Linked DNA regions of Homo sapiens. The protein of the gene in region 7 purifies or fractionates together with the protein of the main gene of each other region. This does not show direct contact. Each region holds a gene or a part of one and is shown on either strand. Other genes may lie near its edges.

Evidence for each region.
Region 1: the proteins of ILDR2 (region 7) and HFE purify together in Homo sapiens (co-immunoprecipitation; one large-scale study listed by IntAct). This does not show direct contact.
Region 2: the proteins of ILDR2 (region 7) and HSD17B12 purify together in Homo sapiens (affinity purification with mass spectrometry, with the first as the bait; one study listed by BioGRID). This does not show direct contact.
Region 3: the proteins of ILDR2 (region 7) and EVA1C purify together in Homo sapiens (co-immunoprecipitation; one large-scale study listed by IntAct). This does not show direct contact.
Region 4: the proteins of ILDR2 (region 7) and KIRREL1 purify together in Homo sapiens (co-immunoprecipitation; one large-scale study listed by IntAct). This does not show direct contact.
Region 5: the proteins of ILDR2 (region 7) and ADGRG5 purify together in Homo sapiens (co-immunoprecipitation; one large-scale study listed by IntAct). This does not show direct contact.
Region 6: the proteins of ILDR2 (region 7) and ZNF224 purify together in Homo sapiens (affinity purification with mass spectrometry, with the first as the bait; one study listed by BioGRID). This does not show direct contact.

What each region holds. Positions count from the first base shown.
Region 1 is NC_000006.12:26,085,968-26,090,228, forward strand, and holds the start of HFE (hereditary hemochromatosis protein isoform 1 precursor), read left to right. Parts: upstream 1-1,461; 5' UTR 1,462-1,473; coding exon 1,474-1,549; exon of another isoform or gene 1,550-2,195; intron 2,196-4,261. UniProt on the Homo sapiens protein: Binds to transferrin receptor (TFR) and reduces its affinity for iron-loaded transferrin.
Region 2 is NC_000011.10:43,809,738-43,813,237, reverse strand, and holds part of HSD17B12 (very-long-chain 3-oxoacyl-CoA reductase), read right to left. Parts: intron 1-3,500. UniProt on the Homo sapiens protein: Catalyzes the second of the four reactions of the long-chain fatty acids elongation cycle. This endoplasmic reticulum-bound enzymatic process, allows the addition of two carbons to the chain of long- and very long-chain fatty acids/VLCFAs per cycle.
Region 3 is NC_000021.9:32,454,206-32,457,705, reverse strand, and holds part of EVA1C (protein eva-1 homolog C isoform 1 precursor), read right to left. Parts: exon of another isoform or gene 117-3,500; intron 110-116; coding exon 1-109. UniProt on the Homo sapiens protein: Binds heparin.
Region 4 is NC_000001.11:158,000,145-158,003,644, reverse strand, and holds part of KIRREL1 (kin of IRRE-like protein 1 isoform 1 precursor), read right to left. Parts: intron 1-3,500. UniProt on the Homo sapiens protein: Required for proper function of the glomerular filtration barrier. It is involved in the maintenance of a stable podocyte architecture with interdigitating foot processes connected by specialized cell-cell junctions, known as the slit diaphragm.
Region 5 is NC_000016.10:57,549,143-57,552,642, reverse strand, and holds part of ADGRG5 (adhesion G-protein coupled receptor G5 isoform 1 precursor), read right to left. Parts: intron 1-3,500. UniProt on the Homo sapiens protein: Orphan adhesion G-protein coupled receptor (aGPCR). Ligand binding causes a conformation change that triggers signaling via guanine nucleotide-binding proteins (G proteins) and modulates the activity of downstream effectors, such as adenylate cyclase.
Region 6 is NC_000019.10:44,100,861-44,104,360, reverse strand, and holds part of ZNF224 (zinc finger protein 224), read right to left. Parts: coding exon 3,434-3,500; intron 3,229-3,433; coding exon 3,136-3,228; intron 1-3,135.
Region 7 is NC_000001.11:166,972,741-166,976,723, forward strand, and holds the start of ILDR2 (immunoglobulin-like domain-containing receptor 2 isoform 1 precursor), read right to left. Parts: upstream 2,801-3,983; 5' UTR 2,529-2,800; coding exon 2,483-2,528; exon of another isoform or gene 509-2,482; coding exon of another isoform or gene 442-508; exon of another isoform or gene 253-441; coding exon of another isoform or gene 162-252; intron 8-161; exon of another isoform or gene 1-7. UniProt on the Homo sapiens protein: May be involved in ER stress pathways with effects on lipid homeostasis and insulin secretion. With ILDR1 and LSR, involved in the maintain of the epithelial barrier function through the recruitment of MARVELD2/tricellulin to tricellular tight junctions.

The DNA.
Region 1 (4,261 bases), on a different chromosome or scaffold from region 7:
TTTCTTGAATTGCCAAAATTTGCATACATGCTTACAAAAATAATGCCTGTTGAATTTGCTAGATATGTAAAGGTTTGGAGCAAATCAGGTGTATTAAATTTATTAATATTGTTTGAAATGTCTAAGGCAATAATTCCCAAACTTCGTTGAGGGAGAAGGAAAGCTTTTAAAATCCCATTGCCCAGGTGGCATCCCATACTGTTACTGGGAATTATGCATTGGGATGGATCCTTTAACCGAGGAGATTATTATAGCCGGAGCTCTGAACCAGCAATCTCAGTTCTTGTGATAGTGAGCAAAGAACTACAAACTAACACCAAAATGCAAGCTTAAAGCAAAGTTTATTGAAGCACAATAATACACTCTGAGGGACAGCGGGCTTATTTCTGCGAAGTGAACTCAGCACTTCTTTACAGAGCTCAAGGTGCTTTTATGGGGTTTGTGGGGAGGAGTTGAGGTTTGGGCTGTATCTGAGTGACAGGATGATGTTATTTGATTGAAGTGTATAGCTATACAATCTAAAATTAAACTGTGCATGGTCTTACCTATAATTTGTTAAGAAAAGCCTCCCAGGGATGGGGGGGCAAAACTGTATGTAAATTCTATTATAATGATGGCATGATGAACTTGGGGTGAACTTGAAGACAGGCTTTTGTGTTGTTGGGCATGTGCCACCTTAGGGAATTTCCACCTGTACCCTCCTTTCTCTTTCTCCAGGATATTTTGGCCACAGACTTTATCATAAACTCCATCCCTTAGGGTGGCATTAGGGTAGTCTTGGGCCTGAATTTAGGTGGGCCAGTGGCTGTCTTAGTGACAGCCTTTCCGCTCTCTTCTGTCATCCCCTCCCAACTGCTAATGTCTAACTACCTAACAATTACCCATTAAATCAGTGTGTCTGGGGTTAGGAGCAGGCCTCAATATGTTTAATCATTCTCCAGATAATCCCAATACTGTAAAGTTTGTGAAACACTTGTCAGATAATTCAATTATGAAGGCTGTGGAAGGTGTTTCAGTAGGATCTAATTGGTTAATGTTATGACTTAATTAATTTGAATCAAAAAACAAAATGAAAAAGCTTTATATTTCTAAGTCAAATAAGACATAAGTTGGTCTAAGGTTGAGATAAAATTTTTAAATGTATGATTGAATTTTGAAAATCATAAATATTTAAATATCTAAAGTTCAGATCAGAACATTGCGAAGCTACTTTCCCCAATCAACAACACCCCTTCAGGATTTAAAAACCAAGGGGGACACTGGATCACCTAGTGTTTCACAAGCAGGTACCTTCTGCTGTAGGAGAGAGAGAACTAAAGTTCTGAAAGACCTGTTGCTTTTCACCAGGAAGTTTTACTGGGCATCTCCTGAGCCTAGGCAATAGCTGTAGGGTGACTTCTGGAGCCATCCCCGTTTCCCCGCCCCCCAAAAGAAGCGGAGATTTAACGGGGACGTGCGGCCAGAGCTGGGGAAATGGGCCCGCGAGCCAGGCCGGCGCTTCTCCTCCTGATGCTTTTGCAGACCGCGGTCCTGCAGGGGCGCTTGCTGCGTGAGTCCGAGGGCTGCGGGCGAACTAGGGGCGCGGCGGGGGTGGAAAAATCGAAACTAGCTTTTTCTTTGCGCTTGGGAGTTTGCTAACTTTGGAGGACCTGCTCAACCCTATCCGCAAGCCCCTCTCCCTACTTTCTGCGTCCAGACCCCGTGAGGGAGTGCCTACCACTGAACTGCAGATAGGGGTCCCTCGCCCCAGGACCTGCCCCCTCCCCCGGCTGTCCCGGCTCTGCGGAGTGACTTTTGGAACCGCCCACTCCCTTCCCCCAACTAGAATGCTTTTAAATAAATCTCGTAGTTCCTCACTTGAGCTGAGCTAAGCCTGGGGCTCCTTGAACCTGGAACTCGGGTTTATTTCCAATGTCAGCTGTGCAGTTTTTTCCCCAGTCATCTCCAAACAGGAAGTTCTTCCCTGAGTGCTTGCCGAGAAGGCTGAGCAAACCCACAGCAGGATCCGCACGGGGTTTCCACCTCAGAACGAATGCGTTGGGCGGTGGGGGCGCGAAAGAGTGGCGTTGGGGATCTGAATTCTTCACCATTCCACCCACTTTTGGTGAGACCTGGGGTGGAGGTCTCTAGGGTGGGAGGCTCCTGAGAGAGGCCTACCTCGGGCCTTTCCCCACTCTTGGCAATTGTTCTTTTGCCTGGAAAATTAAGTATATGTTAGTTTTGAACGTTTGAACTGAACAATTCTCTTTTCGGCTAGGCTTTATTGATTTGCAATGTGCTGTGTAATTAAGAGGCCTCTCTACAAAGTACTGATAATGAACATGTAAGCAATGCACTCACTTCTAAGTTACATTCATATCTGATCTTATTTGATTTTCACTAGGCATAGGGAGGTAGGAGCTAATAATACGTTTATTTTACTAGAAGTTAACTGGAATTCAGATTATATAACTCTTTTCAGGTTACAAAGAACATAAATAATCTGGTTTTCTGATGTTATTTCAAGTACTACAGCTGCTTCTAATCTTAGTTGACAGTGATTTTGCCCTGTAGTGTAGCACAGTGTTCTGTGGGTCACACGCCGGCCTCAGCACAGCACTTTGAGTTTTGGTACTACGTGTATCCACATTTTACACATGACAAGAATGAGGCATGGCACGGCCTGCTTCCTGGCAAATTTATTCAATGGTACACTGGGCTTTGGTGGCAGAGCTCATGTCTCCACTTCATAGCTATGATTCTTAAACATCACACTGCATTAGAGGTTGAATAATAAAATTTCATGTTGAGCAGAAATATTCATTGTTTACAAGTGTAAATGAGTCCCAGCCATGTGTTGCACTGTTCAAGCCCCAAGGGAGAGAGCAGGGAAACAAGTCTTTACCCTTTGATATTTTGCATTCTAGTGGGAGAGATGACAATAAGCAAATGAGCAGAAAGATATACAACATCAGGAAATCATGGGTGTTGTGAGAAGCAGAGAAGTCAGGGCAAGTCACTCTGGGGCTGACACTTGAGCAGAGACATGAAGGAAATAAGAATGATATTGACTGGGAGCAGTATTTCCCAGGCAAACTGAGTGGGCCTGGCAAGTTGGATTAAAAAGCGGGTTTTCTCAGCACTACTCATGTGTGTGTGTGTGGGGGGGGGGGGCGGCGTGGGGGTGGGAAGGGGGACTACCATCTGCATGTAGGATGTCTAGCAGTATCCTGTCCTCCCTACTCACTAGGTGCTAGGAGCACTCCCCCAGTCTTGACAACCAAAAATGTCTCTAAACTTTGCCACATGTCACCTAGTAGACAAACTCCTGGTTAAGAAGCTCGGGTTGAAAAAAATAAACAAGTAGTGCTGGGGAGTAGAGGCCAAGAAGTAGGTAATGGGCTCAGAAGAGGAGCCACAAACAAGGTTGTGCAGGCGCCTGTAGGCTGTGGTGTGAATTCTAGCCAAGGAGTAACAGTGATCTGTCACAGGCTTTTAAAAGATTGCTCTGGCTGCTATGTGGAAAGCAGAATGAAGGGAGCAACAGTAAAAGCAGGGAGCCCAGCCAGGAAGCTGTTACACAGTCCAGGCAAGAGGTAGTGGAGTGGGCTGGGTGGGAACAGAAAAGGGAGTGACAAACCATTGTCTCCTGAATATATTCTGAAGGAAGTTGCTGAAGGATTCTATGTTGTGTGAGAGAAAGAGAAGAATTGGCTGGGTGTAGTAGCTCATGCCAAGGAGGAGGCCAAGGAGAGCAGATTCCTGAGCTCAGGAGTTCAAGACCAGCCTGGGCAACACAGCAAAACCCCTTCTCTACAAAAAATACAAAAATTAGCTGGGTGTGGTGGCATGCACCTGTGATCCTAGCTACTCGGGAGGCTGAGGTGGAGGGTATTGCTTGAGCCCAGGAAGTTGAGGCTGCAGTGAGCCATGACTGTGCCACTGTACTTCAGCCTAGGTGACAGAGCAAGACCCTGTCTCCCCTGACCCCCTGAAAAAGAGAAGAGTTAAAGTTGACTTTGTTCTTTATTTTAATTTTATTGGCCTGAGCAGTGGGGTAATTGGCAATGCCATTTCTGAGATGGTGAAGGCAGAGGAAAGAGCAGTTTGGGGTAAATCAAGGATCTGCATTTGGACATGTTAAGTTTGAGATTCCAGTCAGGCTTCCAAGTGGTGAGGCCACATAGGCAGTTCAGTGTAAGAATTCAGGACCAAGGCTGGGCACGGTGGCTCACTTCTGTAATCCCAGCACTTTGGTGGCTGAGGCAGGTAGATCATTTGA
Region 2 (3,500 bases), on a different chromosome or scaffold from region 7:
TGTACTATAAGTACAAAGTTAAGCAAAGGAAGTCCCTGAATAACTAAGCAAGCAGAGAAGTGTTATTCTGGTTATGACTGTATTAACAATAGAGAGTTGCCAGGCGTGGTGGCTCACGCCTGTAATCCCAGCACTTTGGGAGACTGAGGCAGGCGGATCACGAGGTCAGGAGATCTAGATCATCCTGGCTAACACGGTGAAACCCCATCTCTACTAAAAATACAAAAAATTAGCCAGGCACGATGGCACGTGCCTGTAGTCCCAGCTACTCGGGAGGCTGAGGTAGGAGAATTGCTTGAACCCAGGAGGCGAAGGTTGCAGTGAGCCGAGATCACGCCACTGCACTCCAGCATGGGTGACAGAGGGAGACTCTGTCTCAAACAAAAACAAAAACAAACAATAGAGAGTCTTCAGCTGTGTCTCTGATAATTGAGCAAAGGAAAGCTATCAAAGCTATTTATTCACACAATGAAAATGTGAACATCTATTTAACATAGCTCTATAAGAAAACATATTCAACCAAAAAGCATCTGCACAGCAAAGGAAATAATCAACAGAGTGAAGAGACTACCTGTTGAATGGAAGAATATATTTGCAAACTATCCATCTGACAAGAGACTAATATCTAGAATATACAAAGAACTCAAACAACTGAATAGTTTAAAAAACAAGAAAACTTATTAAAAAGTGGGCTGAGGATATGGATAGATATTTCTCAAAAGAAGACATACAAATGGCCAGCAGATAAATGAAAAAATGCTCATCACCAATCATCACAGAAATCTGAATCAAAATGACAATGAGATATCATCTTACCCCAGTTAGAGTAGCTGTTATTAAAAAGCCAAAAAATAACAGATGCTGGCAAGGACGCAGAGAAAGCAGAATTCTTATCCACTGTTGGTGGGAATGTAAATTAGTATAGCCACTGTGGAAAACAGTATGGAGGTTTCTCAAAATATTAAAAATAGAACTATCACATGATCCAACAATCCCACTACTAGTATTTATCCAAAGGAAAATAAATCAGTATATCAAATAGATACCTGCACCCCCGTGTTTATTGCAGCATCATTCACAATAGCAAAGATAAGGAATTGACTTAAGTGTCCATCAACAAATAAATAGATAAAGAAAAATTTAGTATATATACACAATAAAATACTATTTGGCCATGAAAAGAATAAAATCCTGTAATTTATAGCAACATGGATGGAACTGGAGGTCACTGTGTTAAGTGAGATAAGCCAGGCACAGAAAGACAAATATTGCATGTTCTCATTCATATGTAGGAGCTAAAAAAGTTGGTCTCATGGAGGTAGAGAGTAGAATAATAGATACCAGAAGGTGGGGCAGGTGTGTGTGGGTGGGTGAGGGATGAAGAGAGGATGGTTAGTGGGTACATATAGTTAGATAGAAGGAATAAGTTCTAATGTTCAATAGCAGAGTAGGGTGACTATAGTTAACAACAATGTATTGTATATTTCAAAATGGCTAGAAGAGAGGTCTTTTAATGTTCCCAACACATAGAAATGATACTCAAAGTGACAGATACTTCAGCCACCCTGACATGATCATTACACATCCTATGCATGTAATAAAATATCACATGTATCCTATAAATATGTAGAAATATTATGTATCTGTTAAAAAAAAGAGAGAAAACCTGTTCAACACTGAGAACTTTAGTCCAAAAAAGTAAATAGTATCACGGAGAAGGGCTATGTTTTCATAAATAAAAGTACACACAATAAAACAATGTTAAAGCTGGAATAAGGCTGTTAAGAGCACTGAGTCCAATTTTATGAGGTGAAGTACACACCAAGGTCACAATGGCGATTTGTCCTATTCTAGGGATTAGGACTCCTACATTCCCTCCTGTACTATTAGTTCCACCTTTTGCTTGTGGAATGAATGATACCCATAATCTCCCCACCATAAGTAATCACTTCAGAATGCTCTTATTTAGGAGTATAGAGAAAAAACTGTTGCTCTCAAATAGTTATTTCCATAAAATGCAGAATAGTGCGAATCTTTTGGAAAAGCAAACCCACGGCAATTTTATTTTGAGACGTCAGGTGGCAGCAATAACCTAACAGCAGGCAGAAAGCTTTCAGGGAATTGCAAAAGGAAGAGAAAGAACAGGCTTTGAGTAGGAGTGAAGGATGGAAATACTCCCATTATAATATAATCTCATTAAGAATGGGTGCACGCAATGCCATCTTTACATATTACAGGATTCATTATAGGATTCGCCAAACCAAACAATGGCACATGTTGCTCCAACATTATTCAGATAGTTGAAGATCCCTTCTAAATGGTCGCATCTTAAATTAGCATTAAACATGTTTATTAGTGAGTTTTCTTGAATTCTTGAAGTGAGGCACTAGAGACAGATTTAAACATTTTTTTCAGTGAAAAACCTTTTTATTGTGTAACAACACATGATGTCTCTCAGGAAACAACAGATATCTATGTCATCATGGAATTCCCACCACCATCCCAGTCACTGTAGGGTGCTGGACAGTAACAAAATCTTTCCCATTGGTTTCTGACTAGAGGTCTAAGACTGGGAAGCGCTCAATAAAAGAGATGAGGCAGGCAGAGAACAGAGGTGAAAACAGACCAAGAATAATGCCAAAGGAAGTGGAAAGAAAAGGTGGTGGAGGGCAGAGGAGCCATCCTCTTAAGAGTTGATCCTTGCAGAGAAGAACTGACATAGGCCATGCTTAGCTACGCTCTCCTCGGCCCCCATCCAGAACCTCAGAAAACACTAATATCATTATGTGTTGCATTTTAAAGACACAGAAAATCCACGGAATAATTCTGAATTTTATATATATATATATATATATATATATATATATATAATTTCTAAATTATACTGCTTTAAAATCATTTCCAAATTTTATGCTCTTAAAAAAAGAATATTTACAAGATTTCTGTTTCTTCTAAGTTCGTTTGCTGCTGATCTCACTGAACTTAGAATCCTCTCTCAAAGCCAGCTGCTATAGAGATATAATGATGTCATCAGAAAATTAGATTTTTGGTATCTGGGTTAGGCGTGAGAGAGGAGCAAACAACAATAAATTACTAGAAATTAAAAATCCATTTGAACAAACAATTCTAACAGATACGGGTAACCCCCTACAGATCACCTTCAACCTGTTTCTTTTTCCAGATTAATCAGAGATATAGGAAATTAAGGTGGTTTAAAAATATGTTGCCTAATGGCCGGGCTTCCCGACATACATCAAATAATGCAAAGTAACCCCTCCTGTTTCCTTCTCATTGTATCAAAGGAGAAAAAGTTTATATTTCACTAACATTTGTGGTTATAAATGCTAATCCAGTTCCAGCACTTAGAGTTAATAAAAAGACATCTTATTTATTTATTTGCTTATTTATTTACTTATTTTGAGACAGAATTTCGCTCATGTTGCCCAGGCTGGAGTGCAATGGCTCGATCTCAGCTCACTGCAATCCGTCTCCTGGGTTCA
Region 3 (3,500 bases), on a different chromosome or scaffold from region 7:
AGGAGACCAGGAGGTATTTACTGCTTCCTGGACAAAGGTCAGGTCCAAAAACACGGCTATTGACCAGGAGGTGGCAGGCCCGCTGGTTCTGGCATTCGTCCAGCACCTTCTAGAAGGAGAGGGTAGAAAAGGGACAGGCTTGAAAACTGCTCACAGTGACTGCCAGACCCGAACCTGGGCTGCTCTGGGCTCTGCAAAGGGAAGGACGCCTCCCCACCTGGCCAAGCTGTGTCTAAGGCCAAAGAGCATAGACGTGGGTGATTGGGTTAGCTCCCTGTCTCCCTGCTCTTTCTCCTGAAAAGAAACCTGATCCAATAGTGCCAGGCTCCTGGGAAAACTAACCTCTGATCCACCACTACTGGTGCGGCGGCTGCTACTTTCAGCAAAGGCACTGAGTGCCGAGGCTCCAGGGGGTGCAAGCGAGGTCAGAGGACTTTCAGATATTGGGGTGCAGGGTACTTCAGGGTCCCCTTCGAGCGGGGTCCCCTAGCTTTAAGCTGAGAGAGCTGTGACCATCAGGATTCACAGTCCTGGCCTTTCATCCTTAAATAGCCCCACACAGGACACAGGAGAGCTGTGCATCGGGGAGCTCTTGGGGACCCAAACCCTTTCCAGCTTACGAACCATCCACAGGCCAAAAAATAAAAATTACAAAGCTGATTCCCACCCTCATCAAACTCAAGAGGATGGGACCCACTTCTCCCTCGGGGAGCAGTTTTCTTAGTGGAACACTCAGACTTTCTGTTGAGCATTGGCAGTAAAGGCTTTCCTGCAAATCTCAATCTCTCTCTCTCTCCTGATTTTTTCCAGACAGCTCCTTCGTTTTTAAGGCATCTGCTCTGTGGAAGCTCACAGAACACCCTCCTCCAGGTCCTGGGAAGGCTCAGCTTTTTGCTGCTGTTCTCTAGGTCCTCGTTCCCAAATGGAACAAGTCCTGCTTGTGATAAACACAGAGGTCCTGAACTTGGGTCTGGTTAAAACAAAAACAAAAAGGACATCAAGTACAGTTAAAAAAAAAGTTCCCAAGAATCTGCTTATTACTTTAGGTCTGAATTTAGTGCAGACACGTGAGCCTCTCTGAGTCACCATGTTCTCATAGTAGCTCGTGGAATAGCTCCGTGAAGAATGCTGGCCCCGCCAGGTATCCCCCATTCTCTCAGGGGCCCAGCAGATGTGTCTCAATCAGGAAAAAATACCCAAGAAACCCCTCAGACCCCAGAAGGTGCAGCTTTCAGATGACTGCATGTGGCATGGCCAAAGGTCATGGTGAAATGACTTGGCCCACAGATGTCACCGGAGGGCTCCACTGTTACAACCACAGAGCAGACCCCAGGGCAGGGCTATTTCCAAACTATGTCATGAGCTGGAAAATGCAGAGAGGGGGACTTGCTGCTGACAGTCAAGGGATGGATCAGCTGTGGTCTCCTGTGTGGATGTCTCCCCATGTTAAGCAACCTCCCTCTGAGGAAGCACCTTGCCTGTGCTCCGAGTGCAGCTTAAAAGACACAAAAGAAGGCTGGGCGCGGTGGCTCACACCTGTAATCCCAGCATTTTGGGGGGCCGAAGCGGGCAGATCACCTGAGGTCAGGAGTTCAAGACCAGCCTGACTAACACAGTGAAACCCTGTCTCTACTAAAAGTACAAAAATTAGCAGGCGTGGTGGTGGGCACCTGTGATCCCAGCTACTCGGGAGGCTGAGGCAGGAGAATTGCTTGAACCTGGGAGGCAGAGGTTGTGGTAAGCCGAGATTGCGCCATTGCACTCCAGCCTGGGCAACAAGAGTGAAACTCCGTCTCAAACAAACAAACAAAAAAGACACAAAAGTAAAGGACTTCTTGACCTCTGGTTGAAAGAGTAGCGCATGGGGATGTTTCTGGCAAACAAACCCTCCCAACAACGTCAGAACTGTGTTCACAAATGCTAACCTGTCGGCCTGGTTATAGAACATCCTCTTCCCTCAGGGGTATCTGGCAGAGGCAGGTACCCGTGGAATGGTGCAGGTGGTGCCCATGCTCTAGTGTATGCCAAGAGTTCCTACTTTTACAAAGTAGCCACTTTAAAAAAATGTTGGTACTGGCCAACATTCCTTTCATGCACCCAGGAGGGCAGCAGGTAGCCTGGGATCCAAGGATGGATGGCCAGGGCAGGTGGCTGAGAAATGGGGGTGGGTCAAGAGGGATGTAGCTCCTGGGGTGGCGCCCAACAGAGAGAGTTAGGGGTAGGGTGGGTGCTATGGCTGGAATGTTTATCCCCCCCAAAACTCACATTGAAATGTAATTGCTGCTTTAACAGTAACAGTGTTAACAGGTGGAGTCTTTAAGAGGTGATTAGACCATCAGGTCTTCACCCTTATGAATGGATTAATACTGTTTTTGTTTGTTTGTTTGTTTTTTGTTTTTTTTCAGGAGTAGGTTGTTAGAGTGGCACTAGGCTTGTTATAAAAGGCAAGTTGGCCCTCTCTCCTTCTCTTGCCCCTTCCATTCTTCTGCCACATGAGTACCAGCGTTCTCCAACCCCCTAGAGGATGTAGTGTTCAAGGAGCCATCCTGGAAGTAGAGACACCAAACCTATGGCGCCTTGCTCTTGGACTTCCTGACCTTCAGAACAGTGAGAAATCAATCTCAGGTCCTTATGAATTACCCAGGCTCAGGTACACTGTTATAGCAGCACAAAAAGGACTAAGACAGTGGAGCACACAGGGAAAGCAACTTCTTGTCTCCTGAAGAAACATGTTGTCTCTCCTCAAGGTATAGAAACCATGTCATGGGGAGTCATTCAGACACATTCATTTTGGCTACTCAATTGGTGTGTTTCACCAATCACCTAAATACCCAGATACTACCATGCTTGGAGTGGAAGCAAGGGATGGTGTGAGAAATAGAAAAATTCTTACATCATCACATTAGTTTGCGTCTCCTGTTTGGGCCTTAGGGAGAGCTACACAGCATTAAAGCTACTCTTATTTCTCCTTAGTTCTAGCAAATGTATCTTTATCCATATTTCCTACGGTCGACAAAATCAAACAGACTTCCAACTTTCCACCTGCTCTAAACTCCCTGCTTTAAATGTATTCATATGGAACTTGGGAGGCATAAAAAAAAAAATCCAAGGCCAAGTGACTCAGTAATCCTGGTCAACTAGTTATATATGTTAGGGGCCAGGGATGGTGAAGTAGAAGTTGCTCAGATGATTGAAAGCCATGCACAGTCTAAAACCATCATTGAAATATTAGTTTGACCTTCTCCTATACCAAATCTTTCCCTAAATATGCCAACCACAAAAAGAATGACTTAAACCACACCTCTCCCAATTCCTGGTACTATGTAGTAGAAGGAAGGAGTCAGTAAAGGCTGCCTAAAATAGCTCCAAGCAAGAATGACATGATTATCTACAACTGAAGAAGCAAATCATTAAAAAGCACAAGGCAGTTACTGATATTACTGATATTTCCTTCCTTGAATACATTTTCTTTTTTTTGAGATGGAGTCTCGCTCTGTTGC
Region 4 (3,500 bases), 9.0 Mb from region 7:
TAGCTGCCCCGGGGGTGAATGCTGGAGGGTTCTGGCGCTGGCAGCACAGCCAGCCACGAGTGTGTGTGTGTGGGAGGGTCAGGCATCAAGGGGAGTGTGGGACCTCTGGGAGTCCCCCATCCCATCCCACAGTGTCAAGCTGGTAGATTTCCAGGGAGAGTGGGGAGTGGTGGGGAGGACTGAGACAAAGAGGAGCAAGTCAATTCCTCAAGGTTTTGGATTAAAACCCAGGAGTCCCACTGTCTCGATGAAATGTCCTTCTGGATGACTCAGGAGTAGAGATGAAAACTTCAACTTCTCTCAGAGGCTTCATTCTGCCAGCCTGCCTAGCCTTGGGTTTCTGCTCCTTTGAAATGCCTTCTCTCTCTACTATGTTCTCTCCTCCTCTGCCCTGCCTGCCCATCTCTGCTCCTTTCCTTTTAATAACCTCCCAGTTAAGCGAATCGAATGGGAAGAAGCAGTTAAAAGCAACTCATGGCTTGACAATGCTGGGTAATGGAGCGAGCAAGGCCCCGGGCTGTTCCTGGGAGAATTCAGGAAGGAGGAGGAAAAATAATAATAATAAAAAAAACTCAGCTAAGCTGATTACAAGGACAAAGTTAATTTAGAAATCAGCTCTGTTGGGTGGGAGTGGGGGGTGGAGAGTACGGAACTGGACACAAGAGGTTGGGAGATTCGATTTGGGGGAAGTGTGCTTTATATAAACTGCCTTTGTTCCTGGAAATCATAATCCTTGGGAGGGACCAGGGTTCACTCCTTCGGATTCCTCGGCTCCTTCCATCCGGAGCAGGGGGTACAATCGGGGATTGTCCAGAGCTTGGATATCTCGTGGCACCACATTCCAGAGGCCCCGCAGCCCCTGAGCCTCACATCTGTGGCCCCCTCCCTGCCCCTGCTCCCTGCTCCACTCCCCCTCACTGGACGGTTAGGCTTCAGCATTTTTCACATACCTCTCTCACAACCTTTATCTTATAAAATTGTCAATATGTGTTTATACATCCATCTCCCACACCATACTGAGAGTGCCTCAAGAACAGGGACTAAATCTTACCTACCTTTTCATTCCCAGGCCTAGGCCCAGCACAGCCATTTAAAAAAACAATGCTCATAAGTTGAACACATGCTCTCACCCCCCCTGGTGGGACCCTCTTCAAAGGACTCCATTTGAAAAACCAGAGCTCACTTCCTAGCAGAGGTTTTAAGAATCTTTAGGCTCAGCTCCTAAATGCACATGTATCTAAGGCCACAGACCAGTGGAAATGGCCCAGAATTGACCCTGAAGGGACTAAACCCGGATGGGCCCTCTGATGGAACCAGATGGCTCCCCTTGACTCTGGGCAGTGTAGACATGGCCCAAGCTTGGGGGGGACAGGTAACAAAGAGCCTGGCCTCAGAGTCAGGCTGCAGAGCTCTCCTCGCAGTTACTGCCGTTGAACTCTGCCTCCAGGCATCTTTATCTTATACTGAAGTATTCTCAGAGGAAAAGATTTCCTCATCCTTCCGAAGTCTCTCTGGCTCAAGTCACAGATCTGAGACTTCCCAAGGCAGAGCTGGTATTTCTCTAAGGTTTTCTGCTCACTTCTGCCTGGCCAAACCTTGGTTATCTGTTTTTTTCATGTTTTTAATTGGAGGGGTTATAAATTTCCATAGTGTCTCCAGTAGAAGAGGTGTTTAAGAGGAGGGGAGGCTTTGGTGAGAAGTGAGATGGGGATTATACCTGTTTTTAACACACCCTTTGTCTGCTTAAAAAACAGAAATCCATTGCTCCCCAGTTCTTACAGGGGAGTCTTTGCAAGAAGTCTTTGGCCTGGCTTTTCCAGGCCTCCTCTGGTCTGTCCCCATTCTGCCGTTCTGGATCATCTCATCTGTTTCTCCCAAACCAACCCAAATCCTCAGTCCAACTGGCCTCAGTGTCCGCCACACATCCCACCAGCAACATCTTGGTTCCGGAAGTCTGGCCCATCTGGTAAGGCTCTCCCTCTTCCTGCCACATCCATGTCCTGTCCATCCTTGGGCCCCACTTCCTCCACGGAGCCCTTCCTGGTCACTTCAGCCCACAGCAAAGTCCCTTCTCTGGACTCTCTAGCTCTGACCTGCACACTGCTATCACGGCACCAATGACTCCACACCTTGCACCACCAGCAGTCTTCATGTGTGTATATCTTAGTTTCTTAAAAGGGAAGGACCACCTGCTGTCATATTTTTTGGTCCACATAATGCCTACCAGTATGTTTTGCATATAATAATGTACAGTTGATGATTAAAAAAATAATTCTCCTGATTTGGTGAAAGAGAGAACTGAGGCCTACTGAGATTAAGTAATTTGCACTGAAATCACAAAGTGAGACCTTCAAGGGCAGAGATCTAGTACATTATTCACTTTGCAACACTGGAGCCCAGCACACAGTAAGCACACAATTCTCTTCCGCTGAATGAAGGAACAAAAGTCCTTCCTCTTTCCACACATCTTTCAGTGAAGATATATTCCTCAGACTGCCTCAGAAGGAAAGAAGGGGCAAAAAGAAAAGGCATCCAATGGCCTAGTCGATTCTGAAGCGGACCTAGGATGGGACAGCTTCCTGGGATAAACCTGCTGGGCACAGAGTACACCTCCAGACACTCGGGTTCCTGTTATCCCTTCCCTGCCTCAAAACCCAAGACCCACAGCATTCTGGGTGAGTCTCCCATCACCTTCCAGAGCCAGATTGCAAAAGGAATGAAGCGGCAGCATTCTCTCCTGGGAAACTAATGGAATTTGCTAGAGAGTTCTGGAGATTTCTACCCCTGGATTTAAGACCCTTAATCCTGAGGAGGTTGACTGGCTGCAAGGCTCATTTATTTCAATACGATGCCTATTTTGTTAAATGGGCTCAAGGAGGGCAGAGAGGGATGAGGACTGCAGCCCCTGGAGACAACAGAGGTTAATAAAAGTGGCTGAATAAATTAAATATGGAGGGAAGGACAAGCTGGGAGCTTGGAGTCAGCTGATAGAGGGAGAGTAAGTGGGATAGAAAGAAAAAACAAAAGTGTCATACTTCAGTGATGTCTGCGAGCTACAGCAGCTTTTATCCTGGATGCTCCAAGAACTTAATTAGGTTCGCATTGTCTGACAATCAGACGTAGGAAGGTATAAGAGCTGGAGCTACAGAATGGAGAGGGACCAGTGTTACAGAATGAGGAACCCCAAGCTTCTTTCTCAACTTTCATAACTTCACAGTTTGTGCATCTATCAGAGAGGATGCAGGGCATGCAAGGCAAGGCAAAAAGTAGTGCCTTTAAAGACACAGGAGGGCTGCTATGGCTGGAAGAAAAATGACTCACAAAAATGTACTACTGTTGCACACTAGTGCTCTGGTGACTGAAAAGGCTTGGGTAAAGATGAGAGATATCTGTCCAGATGTGTATGGGGATGGGGATAAGAAGTGGGTGCATGTATAGCTGCACTATGAAGGCATGTGTGAATACATATGCATATGCATATGCATGCAGTGAGATTGCAT
Region 5 (3,500 bases), on a different chromosome or scaffold from region 7:
AGTGATCTGGATAGAAGATCAAACCAGCCCCCGGCCAACGTTCCCTTAAGCCAAAGCCTAGTTCAGAGCAAGGCCCTAACTCTTCAATTCTATGAAGGCCAAGGTGGGTGAGGAAGCTGAAAAAACGTGGAAGCTAGCAGAGGTTGGTTCATGAGGTTTCAGGAAAAAAGCCATCTCCATGACATAGCAGTACAAAGTGAAACAGCAAGTGCTGATGGAGAAGCAAGTTATCCACAAGAACTAGCTAACATCATGCATGAGGGTGGCCACATTAAACAACAGAATTTCAGTGTAGATGAAAGAGCCTCATATTGGAAGCGGATGCCATCTAAGAGTTTCATAGCCAGAGAGAAGAAATCAATGCCTGGTTTCAAAGCTTCAAAGGACAGGCTAACTCCCTTGTTAGCGGGTAATGCAGCTGGTGACTTTCAATGGAAGCCAATACTCATTTAACATCCTGAAAATCCTAGGTCTCTTAAGAGTTATGCTAAATCTATTCTGCCTGTGCTCTACAAATGGAATAACAAAGCCTGGATGATAGCAATCTATTTATAGCATAGTTTCCTGAATATTTTAAACCCACTGTTAAGACCTACTACTCAAAAAAAAAAAAAGATTTATTTCAAAATATTTCTGCTCATCGACAATGTACCTAGTCACCCAAGAGCTCTGATGGAGATGCACAAGGAGATCAATGTTGTTCTCGTGCTGCTAACACAACATCCATTCTGCAGCCCATGGATCAAGGAGTCATTTCGACCTTCAAGTCTTATTATTTAGGAAACAAATTTCATAAGGCTATAGCTGTCATAGATAGTGATTTCTCTGATGGATCAGGGCAAAGTAAATTGAAAATCTGGAAAAGATTCACCCTTCTAGATGCTGCAAGAACATGTGATTGTGATTCATGGGAAGAAGTCAAAATATCAACATTAACAGGAGTTTGGAAGAGGTTGATTCCATGCTTCATGGACGACTTTGAGGGGTTCAAAACTTCAGTGGGGAAAGTAATTACAGATGTGATTAGAATAGCAAGAGAACTAGAATTAGTAGTGGATCCTGAAGATGTGACTGAATTGCTGCAGTCTCATGATCAAACTTGAATGGATGGGGAGTCGCTTCTCATAGATGAACAATGAGTGGTTTTTTGAAATGGAATCTACTCCTGGTGAAGATATGGTGAACACTGTGGAAATGACAACAAAAGATTTAGAATATTAAATAAATGTAGTGGATAAAGCCCCTGCAGGGTTTGAGAGGACGGACTCCAATTTTGAATGAAGCTCTACCGTGAGTAAAATACTATCAAACAGCATCACATGCTACAGAAAAACATCTTATGAAAGGAAGAGTCAACTGATGTGGCAAACTTCACTGCTGTCTTAAGAAACAGCCAGCCACCCCAACCTTCAACCACCACCACCTTGATCAGCATCAAGGCAAGACTTTCCACCAGCAAAAAAGCGTGTGATTTGTTGAAGGCTCAGATAGATTGCTAGTACTTTTTAGCAATAAAGTGTCCTTTAACTAAGGTATGTACATTTTTAGACATAATGCTTTTGTACACTAAATAGACTACAGTATAATGTAAACATAACTTTTTTCATGTGTGAGACAGTCTCGCTCTGTTGCCCAGGCTGGAATGCAGTGGTGCGATCTCAGCTCACTGCAACCTCCGCCTCCACCTCACAGGTTCAAGTGATTCTCCTGCCTCAGCCTCCCAAGTAGATGGGATTACAGGCACACACCACCATGCTCGGCTAATTTTTGTATTTTTAGTAGAGATGGGGTTTCACCATGTTGGCCAGGATGGTCTCGATCTCCTGACCTCATGATCCGCCCGCCTCGGCCTCCCAAAGTGCTGGGATTACAGACATGAGCCACCGTGCCTGGCCGTAAGCATCACTTTTATATGCACTGGGAAACCAAACAATTTGTGTGACTCACTTTATTACCATATTTGCTTTACTGTGGTGGTCTAAAACCAAACCCACAATATCTCCAAGATATGCCTGTAAAACTCCTTGGAAAAAACAAAAAAGAAAATCCTTCTGACTTAGGTTATGCAAAGATTTCTTAGAAACAACACCAAAAACGTGATCCATGGCAACAACAACAACAAAAAACTGATAAGTTGAATTTCATCAAAATTAAAACTTCTGCTTTTTGAAAGTCATGGTTAGCAAAACGAGAAGATAAGCCACAGACTGGGAGAAAATATTTACAAACACATATCTGATGTTTTTAAAAAATTGTATCTGGACTACATAAAGAACTCTTACACAACTAATAAGAGGACAAACAACCCAATAAATATAGGAAAAGATTTGAACAATCACTATACCAATGAAGATGTATATAGATGGGCCGGGCGCGGTGGCTCATGCCTGTAATCCCAGCACTTTGGGAGGCCGAGGCGGGTGGGTCACCCAAGGTCAGGAGTTTGAAACCAGCCTGGCCAACATGGTGAAACCCCTGTCTCTACTAAAAATACAACAATTAGCCAGGTGTGGTAGCATGTGCCTGTAATCCTAGCTGCTCAAGAGTCTAAGGCAGGAGAATTGCTTCAACCCAGGAGGAGGAGGCTGCAGTGAGCTGAGATCATGCCACTGCATTTCAGCCTGGGTGACAGAGCTGGAACTACATGTTAAAAAAAAAAATGTATAGATGCAAATAAGCACATGAGAAACACTCAATATCATTAGTCATTAGAGAAATGCATATAAAAACCACAATCAGATATCACTACACACCTTCTAGAATGACTAGGATTAAAATGGTAATACAAAGTATTATGAGGATATAGAACAGCTGGAAGCCTCATTCATTTCTGGAGGGAATGTAACATGGAAGTGGAATCTAGAAAAGTCAAAACTATTGGATCAGAGAACAAATCAGTAGTTGCCAGGGAGTAGGGAAAAGATATTAACTACAAAAGGGCCTGAGACAACTTTTCAGGGGACAGCAATGTTCTATATTTTGATTGTAATATACATGTATACATGACTGTACACATCTGTCAAAATGCAAAAACTCCTCTCCAAAAGGGTGAATTTTATTGTATGTATACCTCTATAGACAAGACTTTAGAAATCCAATCAAAAAACATATTAAGAGGATGAAGAAGAGGAAATAGGGGAGGGAGGGCAAGAGAACTGATGATCCTCCTCTTAGAGAAAGGAAGTCAACAAAAACTTGCAAGGCTTCAAGAGGGAGAGCCACAAAACTCAAAATATGTGTTTGATGGTAGTGGCAGAGGAAAGTAGTTAAGAACATGAGTTCTCATTTTTCCACCATTGGATCTGCAAAGATCTGAAATATGATAGCACCCAGTGAGTCTGTAGGGACAGGCACATTCCTGCACTCTCTGTCTAAGATCTGAGCCTCATCTGCAAGGGGACGGCTTAGCAACACATTCGAACTTTACGTTCTGAATATCCTTTAAGCCAGGAAACTCATTCTTATGAATTTATCCTATGGAAAGAATAGGGCAAGCCAGG
Region 6 (3,500 bases), on a different chromosome or scaffold from region 7:
CTGTAAACTCTTGCTCTAAACTGTGCAGCCAGTTAAACTCTTCACAATAATATCAAAGGCCTAGGAGTGTTTATATCTACATATTCATAATATTCCTACACAAGAATTTGGCATAACATGTATCTTTAATTTTATTTTTCTGTAGATGTGAACAATAATTTGGTTAACTGAGATAGGTAAGAAACAGACAACCAGTTTTGATGGGAATCTGAAAGGTTGGACCTGACAGGGGTAAAGAAAGGGTGATGCTCCTGATGAGACAATGAAAGGTGGTGAGAACACTTGGGATAAAAAGAATGCCTGAGGGGTCATGCCCTGGGTTGGTTCCATGTGGGGATATTAGACTCTCATTAAAATAAAAAAGACCAGAGGCTAGGCACAGTGGCTCATGTCTGTAATCTCAGCACTTTGAGAGGCCAAGGCGGGCAGATTGCTTGAGCCCAGGAGTTGGTGACCAGCCTGATTAACATGGTGAAACCCTGTCTCTACTAAAAATACAAAAATTAGCCAGGTGTGGTGGTGCACACCTATAATCCCAGCTACGTGGGAGGCCGAGGTATGAGAATCATGTGAACTCAGGAGGCAGAGGTTGCTGTGAGCTGAGATCATGCCAATGCTCTCCAGCATGGGTGACAGAGTGAGACCCTGTCTCAAAAAAATAAAAAAAGAAGAAAAAAGAGGGCAGAAAATATATGATATAGATAAATACTCCTTTATACTTATTTCCAAATGGAAGAATATAGACAAAAAGTGAGCTATAAAATAAATTTAAAACCTTCTAATGAGCATTTAGAAAAAAAGAACTAGAAAAGAAATGATCACATCTTCATGACAAGCAAGAAAGGTATCATTTCATGAAATGCCTACTGAAGTAACCCATAGACATCTACATGCATGAAAAATGTTTGTCCTGGTTATGGTGAAAGATGTGTTTCTTACTATGACTCACAATCATAAAAATGTTGACAACTTTGGTCAGGATATTACCAAGTCCTAAATTAAGTCAGTCAAATGGAAAGTTAACTTCCAAGGTTGAATCTTGGAAAAACAGTAATAGGTAAATATGTACCCAATGGTACACGCTGGAATATGGATATATTTAACACACTGTTACTTAAGAGGTTTTTGGGGAGAAGAGAGAGTCTCTTTCAGGATGTCAGTATTTTGAGAGGGCAGTTTCCTGATTCCTTCCAAGTTATAAAGTTGAAAATAGAGCACTAGGTCTCTAAAAAATAAAGGAAAAATTATGTTGTAAAATCTGTATTCTTTTATGTTTTTAACAATTAAATCTGTATACAATGAAGGTGCAGAAATATACATATTTTTGAACAAAGATGACCAGAAATATAGGCAATGTTTAGCTGCATGAATTGTGTTGCTCTCTTCCTCATTCTTCCCCACCCAGGAGAAGAAGAAACCTGGGGTCAGTGACGTGCATGCAGACTTTGGAAAGGCAAATGGGCTGCAGATGGGTAAATCTCTCAAAGGAAAGCTAGCTGGGAAGCTGGTTATTATCTGACACATCACAAAATGGAGAATTTTTTCCCCTTGTAGAAGAGCTGTCTCACTAGTAGACATCAGAATGTTCATTCAAAAATGATTTCTTTCCAGAAATGAATATGCTTCCTATGAAAAGCTCCAGGATAAGTCATATGGAAGGCATATAGCTCAGTATGGTAATAAATAGAATGCTTAGAAGTTTCCATGGGATGTGGGTCCACCGTAAACACACAAGGCAATCAAATAACGGAATCTAAGAACATTGTAATTAAATACATGGCCATTGGAAGACAAAAAACATGTTCTGCAATATCTCTCTTTCACCGTAGTTTGTGTTTCACTTATTAGTTCTCTCCATAATTTCAGGAGACAGTGAAGTCACCCCATTCATTAGCTCATATATCAGGTTAACAAAAATTTGGAAACCTGCCATGTACCAGGACCATTCTAGGCACTGAAAATACAGCCACGAAGAGTTAAAATTCCTTAGACATTATAGTCCAGCATGTAGAAGTGACAGATAAACAGAAGTATGTGAGACTTGGTACAAGAGAGCACAAGAAGAATCAAAATAGAATGGAATTATAAAGAGAGTGGTTTAGGATGGCTTCTCTCATGACTTTAAAACTGAAAAGAAACTTGAATAACTGAAGGAGATGCCAGAAGGTTTTGAGGTGACAGAGTATCCCAGTGACTGAGATGAGCAAGTAAGGGCTGAGACAGAAGCTTCTGTAGAGACAGAATAATGGTTCCTAAAAGATGTCCACATCCAGTCCCCAGGACTTATGATCACGTTGTTATACAGCAGGGGAACAGAGGTTGTAGATGCAATTAAGGTTGCTAGTCAGTTAACCAGAGAACAGAAAGATCATCCTGGATTATCCAGGAGTGATCAAAACAATTACAAGGGACCCAAAAGGTGAAAGAGGAAGGCATAAGAAGAGTGGCAGAGGGAGCATGACTATGGGGATGCAAGTTGCTGCCTTTGAAGATGGAGGAAGGGAAGCAAGAGCCAAGGAGTATGGACAGTGCCTAGACACTGATAAACTAAAGTAAAGGCTTCTCCCCAAGAGCATCCAGAAAACATGAAGCCCTACAGACAACTTGATAATTGCCCAGTGAGATGTATCAGACTTCATCCCTAAAGAACACAAAAATAATAAATGTTTGTCTCTCAGTCTGCTCAGTCTGTGGTCACTGGGTACCAGCAAAAGGCAACACAGTGCCCTTGGGAGGACAGAGAAACAGCAGGGAGAATAAAGTGGCTGGTAAAGACAGAGCAAGAAGGAGAGGACAGGAGATGTAGTTAGAGAGGTGGCAGGGAGGGGATGAAGAGCAGATCACAGGGTCTCTAAAAGTCAATTAAAGAGGTTGTAACTTTAATAAAAATAAGCCAAACAGGCTTTTGAGCTGAGGAATGGCAATCTGACTTACATTTCCTAAGGATCACTTTGGCTGCTATGAGAACAGATGTCAGGATGTGAAGGCGGGTGGCAGGGCCACCAGGTGTAAGATGGTTGTCAATAATCCAAGAAAGAGGTTTGGCCATTTAGGCCAGGGCAATGGATTTGAGCATGGACAGAAGTGAAACAGGTGGAAGAGACATACAGGGATTCACAGTTGCTTGATTCTTACCTGAATTCCCTTCCCTTTGGATTGCTGTCTTCATCATCCAAATCTTTTCTTCCCTTAGGAAGTGGAAAGTATCCCTGTGGAATGCTTGATGTCCTGCAAACAGGCAAACTTACATGCTTAATCCCAACACATTCTAGGTAATATCAAGGTAAAGTTTACCAGAAATTTAGGTTCTTACTGCACACTCAAACTTGAACCATAGGTTCAAGTTACTAATTAAGACTTGAAACTTTGTACCCTAGGATACAAAGCCACCTCTGGGGCCTGACGTTCTGTTACAGAGGGTGCCTGTCCTCACCCACTGAGAGCAGGTTCCTGAAGTTCTCCAGCATCACATCTCGATACAGCTTCCTCTGAGCAAGGTC
Region 7 (3,983 bases):
GAGAGAGATGGTGGGGAGAGAAAGGGAGGGAGAGGAAGAATGAATGTGGTTTTTTTCCTGGCTCTCTGTCTCATTTTTAATCTGTTCTTCCCTGTCTCCCTTCCTTTCTACCACCCCCTCAAAAGAGAATTCATTGATTGGGCTGGACTAAAATTTCTCACCTTTCGTCTCATGGTTCTCTGTGAAGAATGAGTCTGAATTCATCTCCTCCTTGTCTGCTTCTGTCTCCTCCCTCCCCTCCCCAGCCGCCATTGTTTGCTCCTCTACTTTGCTGAGGCTGAGAGGCAGCTTGTCTGTCCACACCTCTGACAGCAGTGATGGGATGAGGAGAAAGCAGGAGCAGGGAGCAGAGGATGATCAATGGGATCCCAGGAGTCAGTCTCACTTTTGGAGCAAAGAATCCCCAGCCATCTGACAGCTGAGCTGGTCCTGATAACTAACCTGTTGCCTGATTCCAAGCAGAACAGCCTCTCCAGGTGCAGGTGGCAGAAGGCACAGACAAAGCCATCACCTCCCTCAAAACAAAAATAAAACAAAAAGCCCTCCAGCAAAAAGCCCAGAGAGGCAGCTTAGGAGAGGGCAAATGAGACTGGTCTGGAGTTTGAGAGAACTGGAATCTAGTCCCTAATCAATCATGAACGTGCTATGTGCATATTGCCTCTCTAGGACTCCATCTCTATAAACTGAGAGGGCTGAACTACAGTTCCTGTAGTACCCTCCAGTGATATGATTCCATTTCATAAAAAGCTGTGAGCCATCTAAAGAGAGCTCTATGTTTCCCTTCTTCTCTCACTCCCTGCAAACCCCCAGAGTACTTCTTTTAGGCAGACCCCAGCGTGTCTGTAAAGAGCACCTCTGACTCAGGGACCCCTCCCCCCCCCCCCCGATGCCTGGCTGACTTCAGTGCTGTTGTGATACAGGCTCAAGGACTAAGTGCCCTGAGAATATTGATAACCGAGAGTAGAGGCAGATTAAGGATGTGAAGAATCAGTGAGGGTGGGAGTGGAAGGCACTGGGAGGCCAGGGGAGCGGGGTGGCATGGATCAGCCAAACCCTGAAATTAGAGATGATTCATATCTGAATAATGTGGGAGGGATGAACTCAAAGCAGCCAAAAGAAGAGGCTAACTCTGCTGAGGATGCCTCCCCCAGCCTAAACCCAGCAGTGGGGCAACGGCAATGTTAGGGGCATTTCATTTGAAATGGGAAAAATATTTAGGCAATGAAGAATCTTATTCTGAAGCTAAGGGAAATGGGGTATTTGCCTTTTCTTGCTAAATGTATTTTACCCCCTTTACATGACTTGTTTTAGCTATTTTAAGCTTGTTCCCCTTTGCCTAGTGCCTTGATTTTGTCCAGATCTTCTGGCTGGTGATGCTAGAGGTGACAAAACTTCTCATGTGGTACTATTGTCCCTTTTCTCTCCTGCCTTCCACCCCCATCCTGTCCTCACCTTTCTGATCCCTTTTTCCATTTCTTCCATCATTCTGCCTCCACCTTGATTTGAATGGTTGCCTCTGACCCAGTCCAAGCTATCCAGACATTCCTCACCCCCATCCTACTCCCTTCAGCAGGGCTGCTTTGTGAATCTCTCAGGGCTGGCCACCCCAAGGCCCTGTATCCCTATGGGAATCGGAATCCTCATGTGGGGAAATAGGTTAAGAACAAGAGCATCTACTGACCCCAGCAGAATGGGGAGAAAGTTCACCAAAAAGGAGGGGAGGGCACAGAGGACCCAGCTAGACCAGTGACTTTGATGCTGGGGAGAAGCCCAATGCCTCTAAATCTCTCTGCAAATTATCTTTTAGGGAGCGGAGAGTGCACCTATTAGAAAGGCTCTTCTGCTTTCTAATTATCATTTGGGACCACTCCCCAAATGATACCAAGTAAGAGAGAGCCAGGCTCTAAACTCCACAACCAGTGAAGGTTCCATCCCCATCTTCTTCCCAACCTCCAGTTCCTTGCACCCTCCAGAGAGCCACAGAGAGAATGCCCTGGGTCCCCCTCCTTCTCTAGGGAAGAAATTAAGGAGACAGTCCTCTAGCCTCCACCTCCAGAAAACCAGTTCATTTAATTAATCAGCTCCCTCTGAGCTTCCTTTATTCCAGCCAGGCTTTTCACAAGACTCACAGCATTACAAACTCAGGATAAGACCGAAGGAGAACCGTTTTATGGAGGGGAAATGCATTCGAAAGAACAACCTCAGCGCCAATGAGTCAAACACCTGCATCTAGATGCGTCTCACTTGTCATTGGGCTTCTCCCCCGCCGCCCCCATCATTCTCTCTCTCTCTCTCTCACACACACACACACAAACACATACACAAACACACACGTTGCCCCCTCCCCCACTTTCCACCAGACCGCTAAGCAGCTTTAAACATGGTCAGTAAGGAGGAAAATGGGGGGGCGGGGGGCGCGGTGAGAACAGAACCACTACAGGAATATACAAAGTTATTCGTTTCTGTTGAAAAGGACTCTTACCTGTTAGCCAGAAGAGAGAAATCCACCTCAGCAAGACCCTATCCATCTTCCCCAACTTCCCAGCCGAATTACGGAGTGAGGAAAGTGGGAAATGGCTGGAACAGAAGGATCGCTGTCACCCCGCGGCAGCGGGCGGCGGCGGAGCGGCGGGCACCGGGCGTCCCTGGGCGCAGCGCCCGCCGGGCCGGCCGCGCAGGCGGGGCCGGGGGCTGGATCGCGCCGCCGGCTGAGCGCGCGCTGCCGCGGGCTTCCGGGGTCCGCGCAGCGCTCGGCGGCGCATCCGCATGCCCAGGCAGCGCGGCACGGGGCGAGCGTCTCCCCGCCGCAGAGCCCGCCGCGCGGGGGAGCTCGGCCGCCGCACCGCCTCCCGCGCCTCCGCCCCGCCGCCCGCTGCCGCGACTGCCAAAGTTTCTCGGTCACGTGCTGGCCCCCGGCGGCCCAAAGGTCAGCGTGGAGTGATTGAGGCCACGCGGAGAGAGGGGGTCTCTGGGTGGCAGGCAGCGAGAGGCGCGGGGGAGGCCGCCCCGCGGGCCGCGCCGAGCGGGGAGCGACCATCGCGGCTTCTCCCAGGGACGCCCGCGCTCGGGAACCCGGGCGAGAACGCTGGCTGGGGACTCGAGCAGGGGAGCCTGTGTCTGCGGGCAGCCACAGCCAACCTGAACGGGGAGAGAGTGACAGCGGCGAGGGTGGGGGACGGCGGGGACTTGGCGTAACTTCTTACAGGACTTAACTAGCAAGTCCTCTAGGCTAGAATGTTCGCTTCTGCGGTACCCCCGCCCCTCCGTCTGGTTTCCTTTTTGACAGTGCAAGGAACCAGGCAAGAGGCTCCGCAGAATTGAAAAAGGTAGGCGGGAATCTCGCGTCATTACTTTTTCCTGTTAAAATATGAGGTAGAATAAGGGCATCCGGCCCTTTAACAGAAAATATGTAAAACCAGAATGAGATAAATGATTATAACGGCTTAAATCCATCCAACACTTTATAGATTCCAGCACGCATTCACATGGATTATTCCTATTTGTCAGACGGATTTGTCTTGTGTCTCAAAATGTATGTGTTGAGAGAGAACTGAGAAATGTATGATTTGCTTAAGAAATATATTTATGAAGCCTCTACTAGGTGCTAAGAACTAAGGTTACAAAGTGGAATGAGATAGACTTCCTGCCCTTAGGAGCCTCATCTTGGGTCGAGGAAAGGGAGGAAGGTCAGACCATTAAAGACATGATACTTATTCCTAGTAAAACGGGGCAAGTGCAATAATGGAGACATAGAGAAAGTGCCTTGGGAACATAGAGGAAGGACTAAGTTAGTCGTGGGTGGGGAGGGGGCACCACGATAAAGGAGGGGTAACATCTGAGCTGGCATTTGCAGAAAGCACAAGATTTGAGCCATTCAAGGATCCCTGGTGGAAAGGGGGCAGGCGAGGGCATTCTGGGCAGAGGAAAGAGACATAGCAGAAAGGTCTCAAGTAGCATCTGAAAACAGAGTGGTGCCAGGCTGG